Homo sapiens: one gene and its partners. The protein of the gene in region 1 purifies or fractionates together with the protein of each later gene. This does not show direct contact. Each region holds a gene or a part of one and is shown in the gene's direction. Other genes may lie near its edges.

Region 1 (4,020 bases):
GTTTGCCCAGTATGACCATTGCATGGGAGCAGGGTTCAAACTTGATTTTGTAGCAGTTTAGGGTTTTTGAGCAGGGGAAGGACTTGGTATAAACCATATTTTTCAGAGTATTAATGAGTCATCTGAAAAATTCATTGGAGTAGTGAACATATGAGGTAGGGGGAAGACCATTTAAGTCATTATTAGAGTTAAATAGGAGTGAGGTAATGAATGATTTGGAAGGCAGAAGGAAAATTAAGGTAAAGTAAGGGGAGATGTTTGAGGCCTGGAGATAGTGCCTTTATTTGAGACAGGGTCTCACTCTGTCATTCAGGCTGGAGTGCAGTGGCATGATCTTGGATCATTGCAACCTCCACCTCCTGGGCTTATCTCAACCTCCCGAGTAGCTGAGACTACAGGCATGCGCCACCATGCCTTGCTAATTTTTGTATTTTTTTTTTTGTAGAGACTGGGTTTGGCCATGTTGCCGAGGCTGGTCTTCAACTCCTAGGCTCAAGTGATCCACCTGCCTCGGTCTCGCAAAGTGCTGGGATTGTGCCCAGCCAGATAGTGCCATTTTTAAGAGGATCAAAGGATGTCAGAGTCAATGAGAAACAATTCTGAGTTCAACCCCTTCATTTAGAGAAGTTGGGAAACTGAAGCCCTGAGATAAGAAGTACCTTGGTCTAAGGTCCTAGAGCTAGGAAAGCCCCCTTACAACAGTCTTTTACCCAACTCTTTCAGTGCTATAATGCTCAACTACTCAATTAAAATTACCTGGCAGGCAGTTTTGAAGTAGGTACCCTCTAGTTTATACTCCAGATCCCTCCTTGTTGCCCTCACAGCCACTTAGACATCACAGTGTATTTCTAACTATGTCACAGTGTCTTTACTGCCCACTGTCTCTACGATTGAAGAGTCATCTCATTGAATTTATCACAGATTTCTCCTGGAGGCCTGTCTTTTTATTATGGTATTTCCTCCCCTAGAATGTCTTGCTATCTTGGATTTAGAACATTTATGTACTTGGATTTATTTCCATTGAGTTTTTAAGTATCTCTCCCACACAGTCCATTATGAGACAGCTGTTGACATATACCGTGGCGGCTGTCACATGGGAGGAATCTTCTTTAAAAGGATGTTCCCACTGACCTGTTTATCAAGACTGCATGAGTCAATTTTTCTTTTTTTCTTCTTCTTGGAATCGCCTTTCATATTTTCAGACTCATAGAATGACAGATTGTCAGGAACCTTGAACATCACCTTAACTAAACGCCCTGATTTTATGGATTTAAAAACCATGGCACTAGGAAATTGGAATTTTTCCAAGGTCATGGTGAGTTAGTGACAGTACAAGAGGGTTGCTTGATCTGTCAGCTAGTTTTCTCATTTATGAAATGGAGATGATTCCAACTCTGTCTACCTCACACTTTTAAAATGAGGATTAGTGAGGTAAAACCATATACAAAATGGAAGTATTGTCAACACTTTTAGTCAAGGCAAAGCTGTACTCTTTGAAATCGAACGAAATGAGGAGTACTCATTGTTATAAGACTTTCTTTCCATTAGGTTGTAAATTTCTTGCTGGCAGAGATTTTGGAAGCTAGTCCAACTCCTAATTTATTTTTTACATATAGGAGAATTGAGGTTGCACAGTTAGTTATTAGCAGAGCCCAGAATTCGTCTTAGCCCCCTTACTCCACATTGCATAGCACAGCATCTTGTGTTTGCAATCTAGTGTGCAGGCACAAGAGCAGTTCCAACCCAGTGAGATTTGTACTGCTGTTGAGAAACGTGGTAAAATGAGAGCAGAGTTAAAGAATGTCCCTTATCCTCAGTGTGGCAGTTCCTTATGGGCTTCTGTGGTTTGCCCCAGGAGGGTGTGGACAGCTTCTTTTGAGTCATTGTCTAAAATCAGTAGACATTCCTATGTATTCATAGCTGAGGTTAATAAGCACACTTCTTCCTGATTTCTCCCTTCATCTAAGCTCTTCTTGTCATTTTAGAGCTGTCTTCTCATAATGCACAGGGAAAGTACATAGGCCAGAGTCCTTTCTCCTGTCAGGGGTTTCATGTTATCAGTCACTGTGACTAGGGAGTTTCTAGGCTGGAGGAAGGGTGGGATATCTGTCAGGGATGCATACATAGTAGCATAGACACTGGTAATGAGTTTTGCTTGTGCCAGTACCTATATTACATATCTAATCCTCTCAACTTCCAGGTTTGTAGAGGAGGTAGCAGTCTGAATTGTGTTCATCTTCATCTTGTCTTGCAACAGATACCATCTCATTTCCCTTTCATGTAATTGCTTGCAATGTGGCTTTATGTGCAAAATGTGTATTACTTTGGAAACATTTGAAATATCCTGAACAAAATCATCAAAACAATATTTTTCTCTCTTTCTTTTTTTAATGCAACAGAAAATGCCCCAAAAACAATAGAGGACGTCGACAGAAGCAAAACCTAGGTCATTTTACTTCAGATACGTCATCCAGAATGGTTTAAACTGATGACTTTTATATGTACACTGACCATGTGATGTACATTTATTATGTCTTTTTTTAAAGAATGGAAATATTTATTTCAGAGGCCTTATTTTTGGACATTTTTAGTGTAGTACTGTTGGCTCGTATTTAGAATATTCAGCTACGACAGTTTTGGACTGTTTAGTAGTCTTTGTTTTATGTTTTTAAATACAGAAATTGCTTTCACAAATTTGTACCACATGGTAATTCTAAGACTTGTTCTTTACCCATGGAATGTAATATTTTTGCAAAGATGGACTACTTCACAAATGGTTATAAAGTCATATCCACTTCTTCCACAATGACCACAGCAAATGACCAAGCATGAACTAAAGGTAAAGATGTTTACAGATTACTTTTCTTACAAAAAAAATCTAGAAGACACTGTGTTTAAATAGATATTTAAATGTTTTTGAGATTTAGTAACTGATTTTTTAGACACTGCCTATCGCATGAACTGTAAAGCTGTGTGTATTAGGTGTAAAATATTTATAAGATATATGGACTGGGGAATTTGATTATTCCTCCCTTTGAAAAAATAGTCCTAATAATTTGAACAAATATGTTAGTAATGATGGAACAGATCAATGAAAAGTAGATATAGATATTGTGAAAATAGGCTGTTTAACAAACAGATTGGAATAAAGCCTATTCTACCAGTTAAACTACTTTAATACACATTCATTTTTAAAGAAAATGTTTGTTTTAACATAAATAAACAAATCGTATCAGTGTTTGTGAATAAAATACAAAAATGATTGTTAATGATTGGTGCTCTTAAAGTGAGCTTAAAATTTATCCAAGACGTATATCCAAATTTGTCCTGTAGTAATAGATTAATATTCATAGATTGTTGGTGTTTAAAGATCTGAAGTGTGAGTAGAATGTATTCAGCTGTTTAACATGTAGTTTAGATATTCAAAAGTATGCATGTAGAATTTAAAGAATATGTTAAAAATTATTAATTTTAATATTTTGTTTGGAAAAGCATGTTATAATATAATGTTTTCACTATATGGCCTCTGTTTTGGTGTGTTTATTTACCAAATTTTTTGATATTGGTGTTTCAGTATATTTAATATGTGAAATTAGTAGAAAAAGCAGATTTCGGTTCAGAATTCCCCTTTACTGTTACAAATACTGATTGAAATTATCTAAAGGCAAAAGCTTTACCCAACATTTGGAGTTTGCTTTTTTGATCATTTGGCTTCTAGGTTTAATATTAGTTACATGGTGGCTTTAGTGAACTTTTTTAAAAAGCTTTACTCTTCTACCCACACAGTCTTATTTGAGTCCCTTAGTCAGTCAGCAAGCATGTTTGGAACAGTCCCCGGTGCTTTGCAAGGGTTCAGATTGCAGAACAGTCACATATGGGTATTTGTAGTTATAAATACTTGACCGTTCTCTAGGGGTGGGGTTTCCAACTCTTTAAACAACCCTGTTGCCTGTTATCAAGCTGACTTTTTGCTCCAAGTGCCAGAATTGATTGTGGTTAGGACATCTTACGCTGAGAAAT
Region 2 (7,032 bases), on another chromosome or scaffold:
TAGCAGAAAGCAACAACAACAGCATCAACAACAACAAAAAATCCCCCACAAAAACCCCATTCAAGGGTCAGCAGCCTCAAAGACTGAAAATAGACAAACTCACAAAGATGAGAAAGAAATCAACGAAAAAATGATGAAAACCCAAAAGGCCAAAGTGCCTCTTCTCCTCCAAATGATCGCAATGTCTCTCCATCAAGGGTGCAGAACTGTATGGAGGATCAGATGGACGAATTGACGGAAGCAGGCTTCAGAAGATGGGTAATAAAAAACTACGCTGAGCTAAAAGGAGCATGTTCTAAACCAATGCAAAGACGCTAAGAACCTTTATGAAAGGTTAGAGGAATTGCTAACTAGAATAACCAGTTTAGAGAGGAACATAAATGACCTGATGGAGCTGAAAAACACAGCATGAGAACTTCGTGAAGCATACACAAGTATCAACACCCAAATCAACCAAGTAGAAGAAAGGATATCAGAATTTGAAGACCACCTTGCTGAAATAAGGCATGCAGACAAGACTAGAGAAGAAAGAATGTGAAGGAATGAAGAAAGCCTCCAAGAAATATGGGACTTCATAAAAAGACCGAACCTACTATCGATTGGAGTACCAGAAGAAGACAGGGAGAACAGAAACAAGCTGGAAAACACACTTCAGGATATTATCCAGGAGAACTTCCCCAACTTAGCAAGACAGGCCAACATGCAAATTCAGGAAATACAGAGAACACCACCAAGATACTCCACAAGAAGATCAACCCCAAGACACATAATCGTCAGATTCTCCAAGGTTGAAATGAAGGAAAAACTGTTAAGGGCAGCCAGAGAGAAAGGCCAGGTCACCTACAAAGGGAAGCCCATCGGACTAACAGCAGACCTCTCAGCAGAAACTCTATAAGCCAGAAGAGATTGGGGGCCAATATTCAACATTGTTACAGAAAAAAATTTTCAACCCAGAATTTCATATCCAGCCACACTAACCTTCAAAAGCGAAGGAGAAATAAAATCCTTTCCAGACAAGCAGATGCTGAGGGATTTTGTCACCACCAGGCCTGCCTTACCGGAGCTCCTGAAAGGAGCACTCAATATGGAAAGGAAAAACCGGTACCAGTCACTGCAAAAAACACACCAAAATATAAAGACCAATGACACTATGAAGAAACTGCATCAGCTAGTGTGCAAAATAACCAAATAGCAGCATGACGACAGAATCAAATTCACACATTTTGCTATTTTTCTAATTATCCTATCTGTCCTTTACCTTCTGTCTTTCCCTTTCTGCCTTCTTGGGTTAATTGAGTAGTTTTAAAATATTTCATTTTGCCCTTATAACTCAGCTGCCAAATGTTTGGGTTGGTGGGGAGCTAACCTTGCTCTTGAACTGTACTCCTGGCTTTCCACATCTTGGAAGATCTCTCTTTATCCTGCTGGTCATTGGCTTTGCATTTGGTGAAGGCTCAGTGCTTCTCAGAAGGATCACTTTCAGCCCTTTGACCTGCTCCCAGCCTTCAGTGGACTGCTGCCTTGCATTCTGCAAAGGCCCAGTGTACTTGAAGAGGATCTCTTAGCCCTTCTGTTCTGTTCCTAGCCTTTGGTGTGTGGTACTTGTGCACTGGGTGGAAGCTCTATGGGAAAGAACTGGCAGGTGGATATGGAGTTGCTCTTTGATCAGGGCTCTTCAGAATTCTAATTCCTCACATCAGCAGCTAATAAAAGTTTCTTAAAAATTCAGCTGGTTTCTTCGTGGTCCCATTTTTGGCAAGTTTATTCCTCCTTCTATCAGAGATGAAGCAGCTATGCATCTCTTTTTTGGGAAGAGGTCATCTGTATATCGAATTTATTTAGGAGATGAAGCAGCTATGCATCTCTATTTTGGGAAGAGATCATCTGTATATTGAATTTAGTTTATTTAGGTTTTTTATGCATCTCAGCTCAGATAGTTTTTATAGAAAATCTATGATTTTGTGACTTCCTCAACTTCTTGTTGTAGACTCTGGTTATTTTTAAAACTTGTAATTTAAAAATTATATGCCAATGGAAACACTCTTCAAGAATCTTACATGTAATGCTTATTGCTTAGTGGTTTAATGAATGACAACAATCCCTGAGTGTGGGAATAGTTGAGGTCTACAAAAGGTTAATGAGTAAATGAATTATGTTTACTTTGGGTATTGAGTCACTGGTACTGATCTGGCCATACACGAATATCCCTAATCACCCTCATGACTAGTAATACACATTTATAAGATGGTGGACCAGAGCTGGGCTAGCGTTGATTGATAAGGGACAGAAAGAAAGTATAGCGATTGATTATTCAGCCTTGCCTCATGGGCATTTGTACATCCTTATGAGTTAAAGTGAGATGCAAATGCATTCTTCATTAAAATGGCTTATCTGAATCATTTTAGAGCTGTATGCAATAATTTGCTTATACTCATTAAGATAAGTTTGGTTATGTTGATTAAAAACAAAGCTTATTTTCTGCATTTTCCAATAATATTGTAAAAAATACTTCATACCCTTCATTGTTTGGGTTTCATGTCTTCATTACATTCCTTTTACTTCGTATTATCTTTTAAGATTTTGTAGAAGAATTTCACTTGGGTAACTGTAGGCTTAAATGATGCAATGCTTTCTGGAATCCAGGGGTGACTGACACACAGAGGTGACTCAGACATGAAATGTTCAACAAAATTCTAAGATTGTCTTTTTTTTAAATTGTAAATTCTTAAACATTCATAAAAGTAGTGAGATTAGAATAATGAAATCCTGTGCTTCTAATGACTGTTAACACAAGTGAATCTTATTTATCCTATCCACTTTATTAAAAATTTAGTTATCTATTATTTAAAATAATATATTAGCTTATTTTAAAGCTAATCCCAGATATTATGTTTCATTTTGCATGTCTGTTGCTGTCTTGGTAGGAAAAATTTTAAAACATAAATTACTATGACATAATGATATCTAACAAAGTTAATTATTTAAGAAACTTTCAAAAGTTGCTTTTTCATGCCGTTTCCCTAGCTACCTATAAACACCTGGAAATTATATTTATTTTATATTTCTAATGTTATTCAAATGATAATATGCTGATTTCTAAAATTGCATTTTTTTCTGTTGCTCTCAAGAATATCCTAAACATATCCATAGGATGTGGGATGACCTATGAAAATAGTCTGGACAAACATTTATCTTGTTTATCTTATGATAAGCAGAGTTCTGAGAAGTTTGGTAATAAAGAGTTAACTTGGTTTAACTAAGATTTTCCTAAATTATTTGACACCAGAACCTATTTTTTATTTAACATCTGTTAGCAAAAATATATTTGGGGGAATATTGTTCTAGGCAGGAGAATGCTGCCTCTGAATAGCAAAATAATCTTTACTTCATTTTTATTTCAATTAATTAGGTAATTATTTGTCCATATTACATTATCATCATAATTAAGTAATTTTTTTTTGTTTTTCTGTAATCTGCTTAATATTGATAATGTGGTGTGACAAGTCATCTTTCTCAGGATCTTATTTTATGAAAATCTTTCATCACACTTATTTTATGAAAATCATTTGCTGTGTAAGCAAATTAAGTATAAGCATTTTGTGTTTCCACTAGATAGATATTTGCACACAAAAAAATAGACATCAAAATCCCATATAGAAAGCTAAATGCATCTATAGTTCATTGAAGAGGAAGCTAGAAATAAGATGTGTAGAAGTCAAAGAAATAGGGCCGGGCGCGGTGGCTCATGCCTGTAATCCCAGCACTTTGGGAGGCCAAGGCAGGTGGGTCACGAGGTCAGGAGATCGAGACCATCTGGCTAACATGGTGAAACCGCGTCTCTACTAAAAATACAAAAAATTAGCTGGGCGTGGTGGTGGGCATCTGTAGTCCCAGCTACTTGGGAGACTGAGGCAGGAGAATGGTGTGAACCTGGGAGGCAGAGGTTGCAGTGAGCCGTGATTGTGCCACTGCACTCCAGCCTGGGTGACAGAGAGAGACTCCGTCTCAAAAAGTCAAGGAAATACAGCTCAAATTATAACAGTGAATAACTAGATTTTGTTTCATTTGTGAAGAATTGGCAAATAACTTTTAAATAGTTTCAACATAGGCAGTAGCATGGGAATTCTCCTACACTTTTATGTACCCTTAAAATATGTTCACTTTAAAAAATGTAAATAGTTAACAGGGGCGATTGAAAGCTAACTGCCCAACAAAGGAAACAATTCTCCGTGTGTCCCCCTTCTCTGCTCACCCTGTGACACCTTCTCTGCTCACCCTGTGACACAGGAGCGACAAGGAACTCACAAGGCACTGGTGCCCTAGTAGTTCTGCATCTCATCCTCTCTCATACAGTTTAGTTGACATCTGCTCCCTGTCACTCACCCATACCCCCAACCTCACCAATCCTCCAAAGTGGATTAGTTGTTGCTTAGGTGTGTTTTGTCTTTATATTGCGTAAATATTGTGAAGAAGGCTCTTTCCTCTGTGGTGCTACAAAGATAATTTTTTTTCCCGTTACAGTCAAGCTACAACTTCAAGCAGAAGAGAGAGGAGTTGTGTCTATCAAAGGAGTGTGTGCTAACCGTTACCTGGCTATGAAGGAAGATGGAAGATTACTGGCTTCTGTAAGCATACTTTCTGTTTTCACACGTTTTTTGTTAGCTTTTATTGCTGTTAATTTACCAGCATTGTTGTTTATCAAATCTTTATAAAGGATTTTACGTGTATCATCGTCATAGTCACCCTGTAAAATAGGGAGTATTTTCTTTATTTCACAGATGCAAAAACTGATGTGCTGAGGGAGTAAGTAAAGTAAGAAAACACAGCTCATATAAAGTAGAGACTGGATTGGGCTGGAGGCATTCCTGACCTCTAAGTCACTGCTTTTACTCTGCAAAACTATTAAGCTATAATTTAAAAAAAATTTTCTTCTATTATGCAGTTGTTTGAAGATCATTGGGAATAAATGTATACAATTTTGATTATTAGTTTTTAAGTTTCTTCTTTAGAATGTGACGTACAAAACACTAGCAATGTAGAACACTAGTTGAGAATGTAAGCTTTCTGCCTGGTACAGATGCCGACTCTGCCACTTATGAGCTCTGTGTTCTTGGGCAAATGATTCTGAGTTAGTTCTCTTACCTGTAAAATAGAAACAATGATACTATCTCATTGGGATTTTATCAGAATTTAATTAGATACTACACATCAAGTGCCCAAATCAGCATCTGACACGTAATAGATCCTGAAAATTGTTACTTCTTCCTCACATTACTTCTCATTTACATATATGTCAGGAGAGGGACTTTTTTTTTTCTTTTTTTTTTTGAGATGGAGTCTCACTCCACTGCGCAGACTGGAGTGCAGTGGCGTAATCTCGGGTCACTGTACCCTCTGCCTTCTGGGTTCAAGCAATTCTCCTGCCTCAGCCTCCCGAGTAGCTGGGATTACAGGAATGCACCACCATGCCTGGTTAATTTTTTTGTATTTTTTAGTAGAGACAGGGTTTCGCCATGTTGGCTGGGCTGGTCCTGAACTTCTGACCTCAGGTGATCCGCCTGCCTTGGCCTCCCAAAGTGCTGGGATTATAGGCGTGAGCCACCGTGCCTGGCTGTAGAGAGGAACTTTTCTTTTTTACATGTTATCACAGCTTATCAGGGGTCCTAGTTCCTGGCTAGTATTCTTTCCACTAGTACAGGCTCCCTGTCAACTTCACCATTATTATTAGAAACGGGACTGCATATCTGTTGAACATATGATGTATAAAGAATGGTGCAGGAAAATAAATATAAAAGACAGATCTCATTCCTGTCTCCGTGAGGGAGTAGATAGGACATGTATGTAAATGTTTGTGCGTGTGTGTGTTTCACAGCTCTTACACCAATGCCACTGGCCAGTTATGACATCTCTATATAACCTCCCCACAGAAAGGATCTAACAGTACTAAGAAATTGTGGTATTTTGAGCTATACAAATAGTTTTTGAAATTTCTTCTGAATGAAGACCTTTGGATTTCTAAAAGCACCAAAACAAGGCTTACAGAGAAAAAGGGTATCTAAACTATCCCAATTTCAGACTGACTGTATGACAAAGATATACTTACATTGATATTACCAGTTTATGTAATTTTTGCAGGATAAATCACAAGTTTGAGTGTAGTGGCTCTCAATTTTGGGGGGAGGTAGTTGAATAAATTTTAGAATTCTCTTTAAGAATAGCCAATACTTATTAAGTGAAAGTGTGCCAGATGCTATGGTAGGCATTGAGCTTATAAAATTGAATATCAAATTGTCTCTGCCCTTAATGAGTGACAATCCAGGGGAGGCAGAAGTGTAAATAAGTATTTATAATAATGTATAAGGGTTTTGATATGCTACTTCTATATTTTGCATACATGCATAGTAATATAGGAAAGGATAAGAAGTATTATGATATAGGAAGCAATATAGAAAATGAGGTAATTACATTTTTCTAGAATTGGGGGAGATGACCTATAAGTAGAATTTTAGACGTTGTAAAGGAAGGAGTTCAGCAGGCAGTCATGGGGCAGAAGAAATTGAGATGAAGGTATAGATAACTCTAGGACATAGGACATGAAAAGGTGTGGATAAAAAATCTACTTGATGTATCTCTAGAATTACAAGTAATTAACTAATGCTGGAATGTATAGTGCAATGGAGTAACTAGGTGGAAGGGAAGGGAGAGAAGGCTGGGGAGGTAGATAGACTGTCTGCTGAATCTGTTGAAGGGCTTTATACACCATGCTGACTATAAGCAGTGGAGAGCCATGAAGAGTTTTAAGAAGAGATCTAATTAGATTTAAATTTGAGAAAGATCATCCTGGCAGAAGTGTAGAGAATGGACTTGAGGGGGCCAAGACTGGTGGAGAGAGATCAGTTAGAAGGCCACTGTAATAGTCCAAGCAAGTCATGTTCTGATCCTGGCAATAACAGTAGGTCAGAGAGGAGTGAGGAAAGTGCTAGCACTTGTGATTGATTAGATTTAGGACTGAAGATGAAAGAAAAGTCAAAG
Region 3 (7,927 bases), on another chromosome or scaffold:
ACGCCAATTAACCTAACATGCACAACTTTGGGATATGAGAGGAAACCAGAATACCTGGAGAAAACCCATGTAGACACAGGGAGAATGTGCAAACTCAATACAGTGGCCCTACCAGTAATTGATGTTTTTTTCTCATCATTTAATGAAATGATGTTGAACAAAATGACCTTATTCGAGGACCTAGTGTACAATGCTTTTTGTCAGGCATTAATATTCATGCCATCAAAATCAAAAGCACAGGCTCAGCTAAAATTTCTCAAATGCATGGAAACAAGCACCTCAACACTGTTATCTTTTAATTTCAAATGGTTACCTGGGCTCAAAATCTGGGTGTGCAATTTTATCTGCTCTGGGCAGTGCTCAATATCGAGCATTTCTTACAACAATTAGGACTTATTCCCATTCAGATAATGTTGTCCTAGTTAACCCCTTTGTGGTTTTTGGAGATGTAGGTTTATTCTTTAAACTTTTTTTTTTTTTTTTTTTTTTTTTGAGACAGTTTCTTGCTCTGTCCCCCAGGCTGGAGTGCAGTGGCATGATTACAGCTCACTGCAGCTTTGACCTCCTGGGCTTAAGCAATCTTCCCACCCCAGCTGCCTGAGTATCAGGGACCACAGGTGTGTGCCACTGCACCCAGCTAATGCTTTTATTTTCTGTAAAGACAGGATCTCACTATGTGGTCAAGCCTGGTCTTGAACTCCTGGGCTCACACAATTTTCCTGCCTCAGCCTCCCAAAATGTTGGGATTACAGGTGTGAGATGCACCAGAAACCCTTAAACTTCTTAAAAATCCCTTAAGTCCTCTTGGTTTTACAGGAAAGTAGGAGCTTGGATTTTAGTTTGATCATAGGAAACAAGTAGATTGTTATTCATTCAACAAAAAATATTTATGATAAACATTTTTCAGGCTATCCATTTATTTAATAGGTCTTTATTACATATTTACTGCTGTCAAATGTTTTGGGGCCAGAGGTGAATTATGCTAGTTTGGAAACTAGGTGGAATATTATCATTTAAATGGATACCTTTGTATCTCAAAACAAATCCTGTAGTTTATATAATTTGGAATATTGTATGTCTGTTTTCCATGGAAATGATGAAGTTCATTGGTCATGGTACTCTTGGGTCATGGGACTCACACTCACTTTGCTCTTACCTCTTTCTTATTTTCACATGCATCCCATCGACACTCATGTCTAATCCAGAAGACTGGTAGTATATAAGATCCCAAATATTACCACTGGCTCAGAATCTGAGCCAATGAATGGAGAGACTATGTCATACTTGAAATAAACTTCTTTAACAATAAAAATTAAGAGTATAAGTTCTCTCATTTCATCTCAGTTTCATCAAATATTTCATGTTTAAAATGCTAGCAAGTGTGAAAGAGGCTATGGAATTTTGTGAGTGATAAAATATTTGTAGAGTACTTGGGGATCTGGATCTGGGTGCTATTAAAACCAACCAAACACAAGTAGCTCATATGAGTCCTTCAATTTTTATTCTTGCTTCCAACTTTTAATCTTCCAGCACTGCCAAAACATGGAACTAGGCAGATTTATAGCAATTCTGGTAGATGTTTGTTAGGAACTGATTTCGTACAACACTCTTGGCAATAAAACTATAGTTTTCTAAACTTGACATTTAGCATGTCCTTTATCTTATAAGAAGAAAAATACTTCTGTTGTTCTGTTGGAGTAGGTTAGCTTATAAAAATAAAGTGATGCATCTTTATATGTTTTTAACGTGTCCAACTTTGCCAGGCATGGTGGTTCATGCCTCTAATCCCAAGCACATTGGTAGGCCGAGGCAAGAGGATCTCTTGAGCCTAGGAGTTCAAGACTGCAGTGTGCTATGATGGCATCATTGCACTCCAGCCTCAGCGACAGAGACTCTGTCTCTTAAGTTAGTAAGTAAATAAATAAAATGTTCAACTTAAAATAAAATTACAATTTCTTTTCTAGCAGCTAGGTGAAATTTCTTAACTATTAACCTCTGGTACTTTAAACAACATTAAAACAGCCTTTAAAAGAAGACATTAATTAATTGAGGAAAGATTTTAAAATAATTTTTTCCAAGTTTTAATTTTTAAATCCCTAAAGAACCACATATTCTTGTACCATCCAGGTTTATAAAAATGCAGCTATCAAATTTGATATTAAAAACAAGATACCGCACACCCTTTGTGGAATAAAGCACAGTATAAAGAAAATTAGAATGTCATGACCATTCTTCTTCAATCTTTCCCATTTGTAATATTTCCCCCAAGCGGAAAAGCCTGACAAATTTCCCTTTCTTGCACGTGACCACTTTTTGCATCAGATGCATTTAATTTTGTAGGTTAAATATTCAGGACAAAAGGAGAGTAGAAAGAATTTTTAGAGCTTTGATTTCTATGGAAGCAATAAGCTGAAACTTGGAAATAATATGTTTCATTGCCATCAATCCCATTGTAGCTAGCTAACACTCCAGGGATTTCCTTGATTCTCTCTATAATAATCTTATACTTCTATAGTGCTTATAATTTGCAACCTGTGTTCACTTACTTTATGAGATTCTTACAAAAATCTTTTGAAAGAAGGCTAGTGTGTATGTATATGTGGGTGTATGAATATACATATATATGTGTATATGTTTGTCTATACATATACATATGTGTGTGTATGACATATATATGTATATAGTCATCCCTCATTGTCCACAGGGGATCGGTTCCAGAACCCCCTCAGACACCAAAATTTCCAGATGCTTAAGTTTTTTATATAAAATGACTAATTGGTCAATTCTTCTTGGTAAAGTTGATCTTGATCTTACCAGTTTCTTTTTTGGCTTAGTAATAGGAACAATGATTTTCATAATTTAGGGGACCAAAAGTAAAATTTCAGTTTAAGTCATTTTAGGAATAAACCATGGAGCTATAAATCTTTTGGAGGAGTTATAGATTCAGTGTTAATGCTAGAGTATTGCAGTATATTAATACAACAGATAGTTCTGAAAAGTTGCTTTAGAAAAATGTTTCAGCTAAAGTGACCCAATACCAAATTCTGTACAGTTACCCTCTATTTTGTAAATGCATATGTTAATATCAAAGTATTTATATTGTGTAATTTCCTACCTTAGGTGCTTTTGTTTTTAATATAATGCTGTTTCAAGGTCGAATATGTACAGTAATAACTGTTACAAATTGATTACGAGAGATCACAATCATTGTACAAATCACAGGCTATGTCATTGTGTAGACAAAAATCACTGACCATGCATGCCAGAGGTGGATCATAAATAGTAACTCCTAAGACTAGAAATCTACTTGATATTTTTATGGGTTCATCTTTAAAAGTGACCTCGCTGAATAAAAGTTCAATATTTCTTAAAAGAAAGGTAAATCTAAAAACCGTCCAGAATTTTCGATCCTAGTCTAGTACCACTTACTTGGGAACAAATATAGAAGCACAGGCAACCCCGTCCGTTAATTTGGCTCCGTCATTGTGCAGACAAAAATCACTGACCATGCATGCCAGAGGTGGATCATAGTTAACTCGTTAAGACTAGAAATCTACTTGATAGTGATTTTTATGGGTTCATCTTTAAAAGTGACCTCGCTGAATAAAAGTTCAATATTTCTTAAAAGAAAGGTAAATCTAGAAAGCTGTCCAGAATTTTCAATCCTAGTCTAGTACCACTTACTTGGGAACAAATATAGAAACACAGGCAACCCCGTCCGTTAATTCTGATGTTGAACGTGTGGTTAGAGAGCACACTGCGATATGTTACAGGACCTGAGATAAAAAGCAAATTTGTAAAGTGTCTAAGTGTTGATGGAGAAAAACACATCTAGCATATACGGAAATTTTCTTTTGAGTTCTCTGTAGGATGATCACCAACTCAGTAGGTGAAGCCCTGCCCTCTAGTGGTTATGGGTGTGAGAGGACTTCTGTTCAACATTATATGTCTGGCTCACCACGGTTTATTAAAACCAATCGTTCATTAAAAAGCACTTATTAGGGGTCTGGGTAAGATGCCGAGCAAGTGAAATGTTTACGTGTGAAAAGGCATTGACACTGGACAAAGGTACAGCTGCTAAAAGAAGTGCTCGTTCATTGGCTTCGACAGCTGTACGACTGGTTTCTAATTGCTGTTCCAGCCTCTCCCCAGTTCCATATACCACAAACGAATGAAAAAGATTAGCTCTCCCTGGAGCTCTCTGAGGCTGAACCTTGCTCTCTCATTACACATGGTAACTAAGCACACCCCTTAAAGAATTTTGGGAAGTCGCCCCGCGATTACCGGCTCCCCCAAGAACCAAGCAGTCAGTGCAGGGTTTTGCAAGTGAGAGTGCGAGACTCGGGAGGCTGCTCACGGTGCTCCAGTCCCTGGCAGGAGCATGGACACCTCGCCCCTTCCTTCCGTGGGCCTCAACGTTGCCTGCTGAGATTGTGACTGCCACCCCGACGGGAGCAGCTTCCCCTACAGACTTTGTAGAGAGCGCTTAAACGCCTCGGGGACAGCGGCCATGACTCTCAGCTTGGGCCGACCCCGCGGCCGCCCCACGGGAATGCGTGGCCGACACGGGGCGTGGGCGAATCTCCGACCCTCGCGTTCAGGGGGTGCATATAAACGGGCGGACACCGTCCCTGGGGTAAGGGAGGCGCCAGCAAGAACAAGGCGGGCCACCAACCCCGAGCGACCTCCTACCGGACGGATCCAAACCCAAACATTGTCCATTCCGGGCCGAAGTCTCGGCCTTCACTTCACTTCCGCCTTCCCAGCCCGTGAACACGAATGCGCCTGCGCGCACCTCTCTCAGCGGAAGTAATAGTGACAAAGCTGGGTTCGCGGCTGGCCCAGGAGTGCGGGGCGCGACTGGGCGGCCGGCGGCGGGGAGGGGCGGAGCGCAGGAGTCGGAGGCGGGAGCAGACCAGCACGGCCTCGCGGAGCCGGCCCGGCGGACCGTGACGGGTCCCCTCACCTCCTCTTCTCTCCCCTCCCCGCCCGCCCTCTCTCCCTCCCTTCCTCCCTCCCGCTCGCTTCTTCTCACGCCGGGAGCAGGCTCCCGCCTCGCACCGCTGCCCCGCGAGCAGCTCCTCTTCTCCCGAGGCGCGCGGGGCGCCCCCGCGAGCCCCGCGGCTGAGACCCCGCAGCCTGGAGGAGGGCTGTCCGGGGCTTTGGGTGGGTACCAGTATTACCTCCTGCCCCCATTTCTAGAAACTTCCAGGTTCTGAAGGAAGGGGAGGTTCGGGTATCCCCTGGATGGGGGGGCATCTCTAGGGCGCCGCCCCGCTGGCGTGAGCTGGGGACGTTGCGGGCACACGACGGGGCGGGTGCGGGATCTTGGGGAGGGGGGCTCCCGAGATAGTGGCTGGGCGGGGAACTCCTTCCTCAGCCTCTCGTCAGCGCCGCTTCTCCTGGTTTCTCTTGCAGATGCTGCTGCTAGGGGTGGTGGGAGCAGCCGTGGGACGCGTGGCCGGGAGCGGGGGTGACAGCCTGGGATTCCGGGGGCTTCTCTTCCTTGTCCTCCTCCTCTCCTCTCTATTCCCAGTGTGGCCGTGGCTGACACTAAAGACTTTGTAGCCATCAACCCGAGTGCAGTTTCGATGGAAAATGAAGGTAAAGGCCCCTGGCCGACCGGTTGCAACGCGGAGTTGAGGGTGTGGTGGTTTGCTTTTAAGTTGTCTTTGTTTTTCCACCTTTTTATTTTCGTGAGCTTATTTATTTACTGTGTATGTGAAGTGTCCAAGGATTTGCTTACTTAGGGTATCCAGCTTTTATTTTGGTAACATGGGGCATTTGAGAGATTGAGGTTCTGTGGGTGACTGAGCTTGATTCAGCTTTCTTGAGGAATTCCTGCTCTCTTCAGCTTAGGGAATGAGAGGGAAGTTTTCATTTCAGATAGCGTCTGTGCATGTTTAAATAGCTATTTGAAAGGAATTACTCGAGGGGAAGTGGAAATGGGGGACAAGGGGATGGGGCTGCATCTCTGTATATTGGCGTTTCAAGCCTCGATGTGGTGTGTGGCAGGATTCATTTATAAGAAAGCAAGCCATGTTTTATTATGTCTAGCATTGGGGAAAAAACTCATTATTTTTCAATTCACAAAAAAAACCCAGTGAATTTAATGAAATGTTATGAGATGAGTGCTTTTCTTAAAGTTCCACCCTATTTCAAAACATCATTTAGGAGGCTGACAGCGGAACCTGTTTGTTCACTGTACACTTTGGACACATTAGATCGTCATTCACATGTTACATGATCCCTTTGGCCTCGTTAAAATATTTAATGCTTTTCCTACACAGCACTGATTATTTTTAAAATTGTTGAACAACTGTGAATAAGTGATTTTTTTTCCCCCTCCTGAAACAACACTTATTCTTTGGACTGACTTCTGACTTGTGCGTGATCATTTTTTTTTCTTCTGCCTTTAACCGGGCTGCAAAATACTATAAAAGATACTTAACAAATGACAGTTTTTTCCTCTGGTATAATTTGTTTTAAAAAATATGTGTCTGGTATAAAGGAGCTGCAGTCTTGCTGGCTGCTTCTAATTTGTTTTTCCATTGTTGAGAATGTAAGCTTGATTGTCTGACTAGGACTAGTAATTTTGAAATGGGTGTTTCTTATAGATGCAGTAATGTGTTTTGCTCTCTGAGACCTCTGGGCTATGTAGGGAATATGATGAGAGGCATGATTATATTGACAAATTTTACTCTGGATGGATAATTGGCGGAAGACATTTTCTGAAATACTAAAGTGTATAACTGCAGAGGAGTTATACTGTCTAATTGGGTCTTGAGAAACATTTGAAAGCAGTGATGTTTTTGGTGATAAGGAAAGTCACTTTTCTGAGCCTTTTTCCTCTCTTTTAAGTTTATTGATTTAAGAAAGGCAAATCCATTCTGCACATGAGACAAAGAATGTTAAATGCATTCATATACTTGTTTCTTGGTAGAAACATCTTAAATAACTTCTAACATTTAATGTATGTTTATGAGCTTGTTTTCAGAATGGTACCAGATTTAAGAGGGTAGCCTAAAGTAGGTGGATTCTTTCATGTTGCTTTTGTTTCTTGATCTCTCAGGAGGAAGAGCATGAGTAATAAAGCCGATTCTCATTATCTACTGAGGTGGGAGGGGGTGGTTGTGAGATAGGAGAATGGTGCCTACTTGTGTCTGTCTCTGTATTTTGTGGCCAAATATGAATTTTGTGGTTTCATAGTAAAAGATTATACAGTTCTTAAAAACGTGTGGGGTTTTCTGTCCCGTTATTCTTGACCATCAAGAGACCATTTTTGTCAGTTTCTCCCTATCGTCACATTTTTTTTTATATATAAACAGTTTGAAGAAGAGCCTGTATATAGCCTAGAAATTTTCAAAAGTGACTGACCATATTAAACTACATAGATTGATACCTGTGCCTTTTTATTGTTCACTTGCCTTTTTGTAGTTTTCATCCTTCTTTGATATAGTGTAGTATTAACAATTTGGAGGTGTGAAACAAAAATGGATTCAAGTCTTGACTAACTTGTCTTGAACCACTTAAAGCTGTGTGATTTTAAGTAAATTACGTCACCTTTCTGAGCCTGTATTTCTTCATCTATAAATTGGGATTGATAATCTTTAACTCACAGAATTGAGAGGATTAAATGAGAAACCCTGTATAAATTCTCTTGTGAGGTAGGAATGATAACGTTTAAGAGCTTGAGTTGTGGTGGAACCATGCAGACTGATTTGAATGCTGGATTCGTCGCTTACCATTTGGCTTTGTGCATATTAAAGTTTTCTGTGCTTCCGTTTCTTCATAAAATAAAGATAATGATAGAACCTACCTTATGAGGTTGTTGTAAACATTCAAACAGTATCTGGCACATAGTAAGTGCTCGGTAAATGTTAATTATAAATTGCCTAGCTGAATGTTTGATACATACTAATAGGCC
Region 4 (7,447 bases), on another chromosome or scaffold:
TATGATATTGTCATGCACCCTGGTGAGGGGAAGTGTCATCCAGTTCTAGGTTTCTGTGAATCTACCTTGATGCAGGTGTTCAGGGAGTAGTGAGTTTCCTCAGTTGTAATGTAGACCAGCGCTTCTCAAACTTAAACACGTATACAACCTCCTAGGGGGTCTTGTTAAAATGCCATTCTAATTTGGGAGCTTTGGGGTGGCCTGACACTCTGCCATTCTAAAACCCTCCCAGGCCATCATGATCACCACCTTCCGAGCAGCAAGGGGTTAAAACCCAGGCATCTCCCATGATCTAGTAGTGAGTGCCTTTCTAATCGCCCCCAGCTGAAAGGCAATGCAATGTTATCATAGACGGGCAAGAAGAATCTCTTCCTTGGCTCTGTAAATGCTTCCGGGATGTGCTGGGTCAGCCTCCCTCCATTCTGGTTGGCGATCTTGGTCTAGTCACAAGCCAAGACCGTTGATCATACACAAAAGTTTAAGTACCTACTACGCGCCAGGAAGCTCCCTCAGAAAGATGGTTGGTCCTGCTCCCCCACCCACCCTCCACCCTGGCATCTTTTATCCACTCTTCCTTCAGCAACTGCCTTTATCAATGCTCCCTTGAGCCAAAATAAACAAATAAAAAGCAACTTCCTTTGGAAGCTACTCCATACTCTTGCGCTGGCCACAGTTACATCTCCCTGCAGATACACAGATTCTCATGACACAGAGCTCAGACAGTGCTTCCTCTCTGGAGGGCTCATGTTTCGAGAGAAGACTGGAAGGAGGACAACCTTATGCTCCAGTAGAATTCCAAATTCTGGGGTGCAGGGACATTTCGTGTGTGTATGTGGAGGGGGGGGTGTCCTAATGCCCTGTAAGCCACACTTTATAATGCTGTACAATATTGGGTCACCATCATGGGCCATGGAAAGCAGAATCTGTGAGGTTCAGTCCCAGGCTCCAGCACCCCTTTGTCAGCTGGCCTCCCCGCTCAGTGCCCTCTCCCACTACCTGCCCTGCCTCAGCTCTGACTGCTGCTGATGTGCCTCCACCCATCAGGTCATTGTGATGGCAAAGACAATGCCTCCATTTGCCCTGAATGCAGCCTTACATAGGAAAGAGCTTCCTGTGCTCCAGAACTTGGAGGAGTCCTGCAGCACCTGGTCTAGTGGGGAGAGCATCAGTGGGGAGCGGCACCTTTCCTGCAGCCACGGCCCACTGGGCAGGACCAGATCCAAGTGGCCTGGCTTCTGGCTAGGGTGTCAGAGTACATTGGGGCATACAGCTTCCCGTGGCCATCTCGTTTTCATGGAGGATTTATTTTGTGAAGTGGACCTGCTCTGTCCCATCCTATAAATGCTGGATTAATCCAAGAAGCTGAGGGTGAGCAACATCCCTCTCCTTCCTGATCAAATAAGAAATAAATCTAGATTTTCTCCTGGATGCTATTCTCTTCTTAGCCAAACAGCTAACCTTGTCTTCAAGGAAAAAGGGCAATCCCAGGGGCTCTGTAAATTGAATATTCAGCAACTCCAGGGGCAGACATCCCTAAGTGCATAAGTGGAGCACCCCTCTGAATCAGCATCACACCAGCTGGGGGCATAAAAAGGAGAGCAGAGTAGGCAGGAGCTGTGGGGACATTTCTGAGATGCTAAAAGAGGCAAGGAAGTGTGAGGACGGGTGTGCATTCATGCAACAGGTATTTACTGAGCACCTACTATGAGCCAGGCAGTGCTCTATCCATTAGAGATACGGAATTGAATAAAACATAAAAATCCCTGCCCAGGAGGAGCTCACATTTCTATGGGAGAAGACAGTTACTGAAAAACAGTCCAAAAAACTCTATTTTATAGTGTGTTCAGAGGTAATACAGGCTATGGGGAAAAAAAGAAAGCAAGCAGGTACATGGATGAGGAATGGGGGCGATCAGCGTGGGCCTCACAGAAATGATGACCTTTCAGCCAAGACTTGGAGGAGGTAGGGAGGGTACCTGGGGATGCCTAGGGTCCAGGCAAGGGGAACGGCAGGGGTCAGGATCCTGTCAGATTCATCTGAGGTGGGACTGAATGTGAGCAGAGAGAGGGAGACAGAGGATGAGGGCAGAGAGAAGGCCAATCACACTGGGCCACGGCTATTGCAAGGACTTTACTTTTGCTGGGGGAGGGGGTAGAGTTTTGAGCAGAGGAGAAATGCGATCTGGCAAACATCTTGCAAGGATGGCTCTGACTGTTCTATCCTTGGCAGAGGACACCAGAGTCTGGCCCATAGAAGGTGCTCAACAAAGCTCAGCACATTGCACTCCTCCCTGGAGTAGGAAAGGGCTCGTCTGCTTTGGGAAATTTGGCTCTCAAGCTTCTGGAAACACCTGACCCCATGCCAGGTGAGACAAGCTCACACTCAAGGCCCCCTTAGTCCAACGGTCAGTGGACAGAACAAGCACCAAAGGTCAACGGCGTGGGCGGTGGCCTCTCTGCCAAAGTGTGTGGGCCCAAGTAGGGTATTCACCTCCCTCCCTGTCTGTGAGAAATTTCAGACCCCTCTACTTTTTCCAGCAGGAGTTCATGTTCCTTTTAAGATAATCCTCTATAGACCTCTGGCAGCCCAGCCTTCAAAATGTCTCCCCCTGTCTCTCTTACTCATGGAGAGCCCCGCTTCCCCGCCTCAAAAAAAAGTCTTCCTCTCTCTTACTCATGCATGGAGAGCCCCACAAAAAGACACTGGTTCCCAGGGATTCTTCCAAAGATGCTGGAAGACCTCTCAGTGTTTGCATTTCCCAAGCTCGGTTTCCTTGTGCTGTCCTTGGGCATTAAAGGAAGGCTATTCAGCCATCCCCATCAGCAGGAGCAGGCATCAAAAGAACAGCTACTGCAGGGGGAGCATATTAGGGGCACCAGAGGGGGCTAGGAACTGGGTCTTGTCTTCTCAAAGTTTACAACCCACTGCAGGGGCCACTCACCAGCCCTGGCACCCTAAGGGCAGGAACCTCCATTGGGCACGTGTGTCTCCAGCACTGGGAGCACTGTCTGGCACCTGGGGCACTGTGAGTGTTGAATGGATAAAGGACCTGTAAGAATTGCCATAAGAGGTGTTGCCCTGGGGCAAGGTGGGACAGGAAAGTTCTTGCAAGAGAAGAGAGGCTCTGGCCTTGGGCCCTGGCTGAGCAGAGAGCTGGGAGGTGGGTATTCGGGTAGGAGGAAAGCTGTGGAGGGGGAAAGCAAACTGCCTGCGGGGGTGGGGGGGTTCTCGGCGGGAGTTGGGGGTGGAGGGAAAGGCGCTTTACAGCAGCACTCCCTCCACAGGGAGACCAGAGCTCTGCCTCTTCCTCCCCACCGTGCCCTTTGGGGTCCAGTTGTGGGGCCTTCCTTGAGGCCCAGCTCCTGCCTCTGGCCTCCGGAGGCTTATCTCCCCAACAGAGGCTGGCTCCCCAGAAAACAGGATTCTTAGACTTCCTAAAAATAACCTGAAGCTCCTTATCAGAGGCTAATAGTGTATGTCTCCCAGGAATACTCTAGAAAGAGTACCAGGGGTCAGGAACCCCCACTCAGCCTCCACGAATCTGAGCGGAAAAGCCCGGGTCTCCTCACCTGTAAAGAAAATAACTGCAGCCGGCAAATGTGACCACAGGTGAGAAGGGGCTTCGGACCAGGGCGCACACCTCTAGAGAGGTGCCCACAGACAGCCTCCCCTTACTTACGCCCTGCTTCGCTGCAGTGCTGTGAAGCCATCGGCATTGGAAGTGCGGAGGGCAGCGGGCAGTGCCCCAGGGGGAAGGGGGGACGGGTAGGGTTTCAGAGCCCAGAAGGCCTAGACAGGGAGGCAGCTCCGGGAGAAAGGTACCCGCCATCCCACCGGTCTTGGAACCTGAGGACTGCTGGGAAGGGTCAAAAGTCTGCCCTAAGGGTGGACAAGGGACAGAGATTGGGGGGGGACCACAAAGGCCTGGGCGCAACCTTGTTGAGAGGGAAGGGATCCGGACCCAATCTGGAGCCCTGGTCTCTTCCCACCTGCAACCGTGGCTGCCACTTGGCCTCGGTTATAAAATGGACAAGGATTCGAGGTGCTCCTCAGGTTAAGAGAGGGGGGCCTAGAGGTCACCCTGGCCTCGGTGCCCTCCGTGGCCGGGTTAAGAGGAGGTCCCGGAGTTCTGCTCACTTCAGCCGTGTGCCGGGCACTGCAAATCAGGAAGTGTTGGCGCCGGCTGGCGACCTCCCGCCTGGGGCCAGGGGAGGAGGGTGGTTGGACGCTGCCACCGCTGCCGGGGCTGTGCAGGGCTGGGCGGGGAGCGAGGACCCGGCGGCTCCTGATTGCGGCCCCGGGGGAGGTGGCCGAGCCGGATAAGCTGCGGCGGGCTGGAGGGCGGCCACCTCCCCTGCAGGTCCGGCCCTCCCGGGCGGGTGGGGCGCGGGGGAGGAGGAGCCTCGGGCCGAGCCACCGCCTTCGCCGCGGACCTTCAGCTGCCGCGGTCGCTCCGAGCGGCGGGCCGCAGAGGTGAGTGTACCCTCCCCCGGTCTCCGCGGGGCTGCGTGCTGCGCCCGGTCCCCGAGACGCCCGCCCGGTTGCACCCTGCGCCGTCGCTGCGCGGACCTCGGGTGCCGCCACACGTCTGGAGGCGACTTCTGTCCCCTGGGACCGAGCCACGTGCGCCCGGCGGCAGAGAAACCGGGTTCCGGGGCCCCCACCCCGTGTGCCTTCCTTCCCTAGGCGTGGAAGCCGCTTGCGCCGCGCAGGTTAGGCAGGGCCGGCGGCGACAGTGGCGGGGAGCAGGCTCCGGAGCCCCGGGTGCAGATGTGGGCGCCCCTCCGGATGACCCCGGCTGAGTCCACAGGTCCCGTGTGCCCCACGGCTGGGGCTCTGGCCAGCGGTCCCAAAGGAGGGCTGGTAGCTGTGGGCGGGGATCTTCCAGGCTCTTCCTCGCCAGACCTCCCAGTCCCTTCGCAGCCGAACAGGGCAGGGACAGGGGCAGGTGCAGGGGCTGGGCAGGGGCGCCCGACCTTGGTCCCCAGGAGGAGGCTGGCCTCACCAGTGCCCGCCTCTGCCCGCGGAGCCCTTGCCTGGCAAAGTTCCCCCTCCTGCCCGGCAAAGCTCCCCCTCCTGCCCACTTCCCCGAAATTTGGGGACAGGCTGCCCGGAGAGGTGTGGTTGGAACTTTGGTCACTCTGGGTAAATGAAGGGGAGGGTGTGCCCAGATAATATGCGGTTTGGGGACCAGAAAGCCGGATCCGTGGGGAGAAGCAGGAAGGTCCCGCTGGAGCCCTGGCAGAGGGCACAGAGAGGCCTCCCAAATATCCAGGGCCACCTCAGAGATGGGCTCCAGAAGTGGGGATTCTGGAAATGCCCCCAGGGAGGTATTTCTGTCCATCAGAGTGCAGCCATAATATAATTAACAGCAGATATTCCCATTTATGTGTGCCAGGCATCTTGCTAAGGGCTTTGAGCACAATATCCCAGTTAATCCTCACAACAGGAAGGCACCATTATCTCTTGTTAAAAATGGGGAAACAGCCTCAGAGAGTCCACGTATTTTGCAAGGATACACAGCTAGGAAGTTGCAGAAGTAGAATTTGAACCCAGAGTTATCTGACTTGGAGCCCAGAGGAACCTACCACTGGGGCGAAACAGGCTGTGTCCTCACGGGGATTCTGGCAGCCCCAAGAATACAGTGCTGAGAGCCAGAAGGTCCACAAAACCAAAGGGTCTCACCTGGGTGTGTCCTCTCAGTCACCTGCAAGGCTTGTTAAAAATATAGATCCCCAAGTCCCATCCGAAGCTGACTGAATCAGCTAGGGGCACCTGGAGGACCCAGACTATGTCTTACTCATCTCTGTCCCTGGTGGCCTGCAGAGGGGCTGGCAAGGAGCAGGTGCTTAGTGAATGTCTAATGGGTAAGTGGGCGGGGTGGGGTAGATGGTGTCACTAGTGTCCTGAAGGGGGCTTAAATGGAGCAGGTGGCCTCAGCCAGGCAATCCGGCAGCAGGTATGGAAGTGACACAGTCTAATGCTGGCCTCAGAGCCAGCAGGGAGCTCAGGCTGGGCCACTTGTCCACCTGGGGGTTGAACAGCCTGCCCCAGGTTTGCTGAGGTCCCCAGGACCAGGCCAGGTCAAGCTGGGATCACACATGTTCCCTCTCCAGCCTAGAGATGTCAAACAGGTAGATTCCTCTCCCATTCATATCTCCTATCCTTGGCCCACAGCCCTTCCCTTCTTGGACTTATCAGAGACCAAGGTGCTGGGCAGGGCTTCAGGTGGTTAAAAAGTGAAAGTTCTTGAGTGAAGTCCAAAGGCGCACACCTGAGAGCTGAGTGGGCAAAAGGTCGCTGGCTGAGTGCTGGGGATAGTCTGGCTTTGGAGTCAGATGGACGAGTCCAAATCTCAGCTCCTTACCCCGTAACATGAAGCCCTCAGCTCTCTGAACCTCTGTTTATTTGCAAAACCTTGCCAAGGGCTTCAAACAGGATATCCTCATAAAACAAGTATGCCTATTTGGGGGACTAAGTGTGTGAAGTGCTGAGTTTTAGGAGTGCAGTAAATATCGGATCCCTCCTTCTTCACCTCAGGTTTGCGAGTTAACCAGTGAGGGGCCTTCCAGGCCTAGTGCTCTTGTAGACCGAACCACTAGCTTTCCTAGAGAAGGCAACTGAGGCCTAGAGAGTGGCCTCCAGGTTCCGTGCTCTGTGGCAGAGCTGGCCTTGGCTCCAAGTCCCAGGGTTCCCAGCTCAGTCTCAGCTGATGCCTCCCAGCCTGGCGGTCTACGCTGCCTGCTACATTCCCTGTCCAGCTACAAATGAACAACTGAGAGGGCTGGGGTGAGATTCAGGCAGGCTGGGGCAAGGGAAGGAAGCAGGTCATTTGGGGAGTCGGGCTCTCTGGTCTTCCAGCTGAGGCTGGATCCACTCTTTCCTGTCCACCCACGGTGCGTAGTGGCCAGGTCTTCCTGAGCTGAGCAGGTTGAGCACTATGAAACTGCTTTCTAGCATCTAGACCAGGGAGTTGCCTCTTGATTTAAAATGAGGATGTTTACCAGTTTAAGTAGTTATTAAAACCTAAGGCCAAGTTGGTGCCTTTCCTCCCTCTAGGAGTTGGAAGGGTGTGTGCTTTTTTCTGCTCCTACCCCACCCCTGCCAAACCATCCCAATTTGAGAGGCTGTGGAGATTACAGAACTTGGAGAGGAGAGGGGCAGGGATCGGGGTTGGAGACTAGATGGTTTTCAAACATTGGGCTACAGAAGTCCCTCTTCCTCCCATCTGTCTCCTGCAGCTGGGTCCACCCACCTGTCCAACACAGCCTCCCACAGGTCCCGGGCCTCTTTGTGCTCCAACCGTCACATCCTTGGCATGCCACACACCCTCACCATCCTGCCTGAAATGCCAGTCCTCATCACTGACATTCAGCCTCCCATGTGCCAGCATCCGGGCCAAACACTTTATCTACAGGAGCTCATTTGTACCTGGAGACTCTTAGGA

The links.
Region 2: the proteins of TMEFF1 (region 1) and FGF2 purify together in Homo sapiens (affinity purification with mass spectrometry, with the first as the bait; 3 studies listed by BioGRID). This does not show direct contact.
Region 3: the proteins of TMEFF1 (region 1) and ATP2C1 purify together in Homo sapiens (affinity purification with mass spectrometry, with the first as the bait; 3 studies listed by BioGRID). This does not show direct contact.
Region 4: the proteins of TMEFF1 (region 1) and STEAP3 purify together in Homo sapiens (affinity purification with mass spectrometry, with the first as the bait; 3 studies listed by BioGRID). This does not show direct contact.

The regions. Positions count from the first base shown.
Region 1 is NC_000009.12:100,574,117-100,578,136, forward strand, and holds the end of TMEFF1 (tomoregulin-1 precursor), read left to right. Parts: intron 1-2,399; coding exon 2,400-2,484; 3' UTR 2,485-2,818; coding exon of another isoform or gene 2,819-2,839; 3' UTR 2,840-3,520; downstream 3,521-4,020. Other genes in the region: MSANTD3-TMEFF1 fusion protein, read left to right, coding at 2,400-2,484.
Region 2 is NC_000004.12:122,871,800-122,878,831, forward strand, and holds part of FGF2 (fibroblast growth factor 2 isoform 18 kDa), read left to right. Parts: intron 1-4,521; coding exon 4,522-4,625; intron 4,626-7,032. UniProt on the Homo sapiens protein: Acts as a ligand for FGFR1, FGFR2, FGFR3 and FGFR4. Also acts as an integrin ligand which is required for FGF2 signaling. Binds to integrin ITGAV:ITGB3.
Region 3 is NC_000003.12:130,889,172-130,897,098, forward strand, and holds the start of ATP2C1 (calcium-transporting ATPase type 2C member 1), read left to right. Parts: upstream 1-4,912; 5' UTR 4,913-5,166; intron 5,167-5,378; exon of another isoform or gene 5,379-5,418; 5' UTR 5,419-5,598; coding exon 5,599-5,604; intron 5,605-7,927. UniProt on the Homo sapiens protein: ATP-driven pump that supplies the Golgi apparatus with Ca(2+) and Mn(2+) ions, both essential cofactors for processing and trafficking of newly synthesized proteins in the secretory pathway.
Region 4 is NC_000002.12:119,219,416-119,226,862, forward strand, and holds the start of STEAP3 (metalloreductase STEAP3), read left to right. Parts: upstream 1-4,418; 5' UTR 4,419-4,473; intron 4,474-7,447.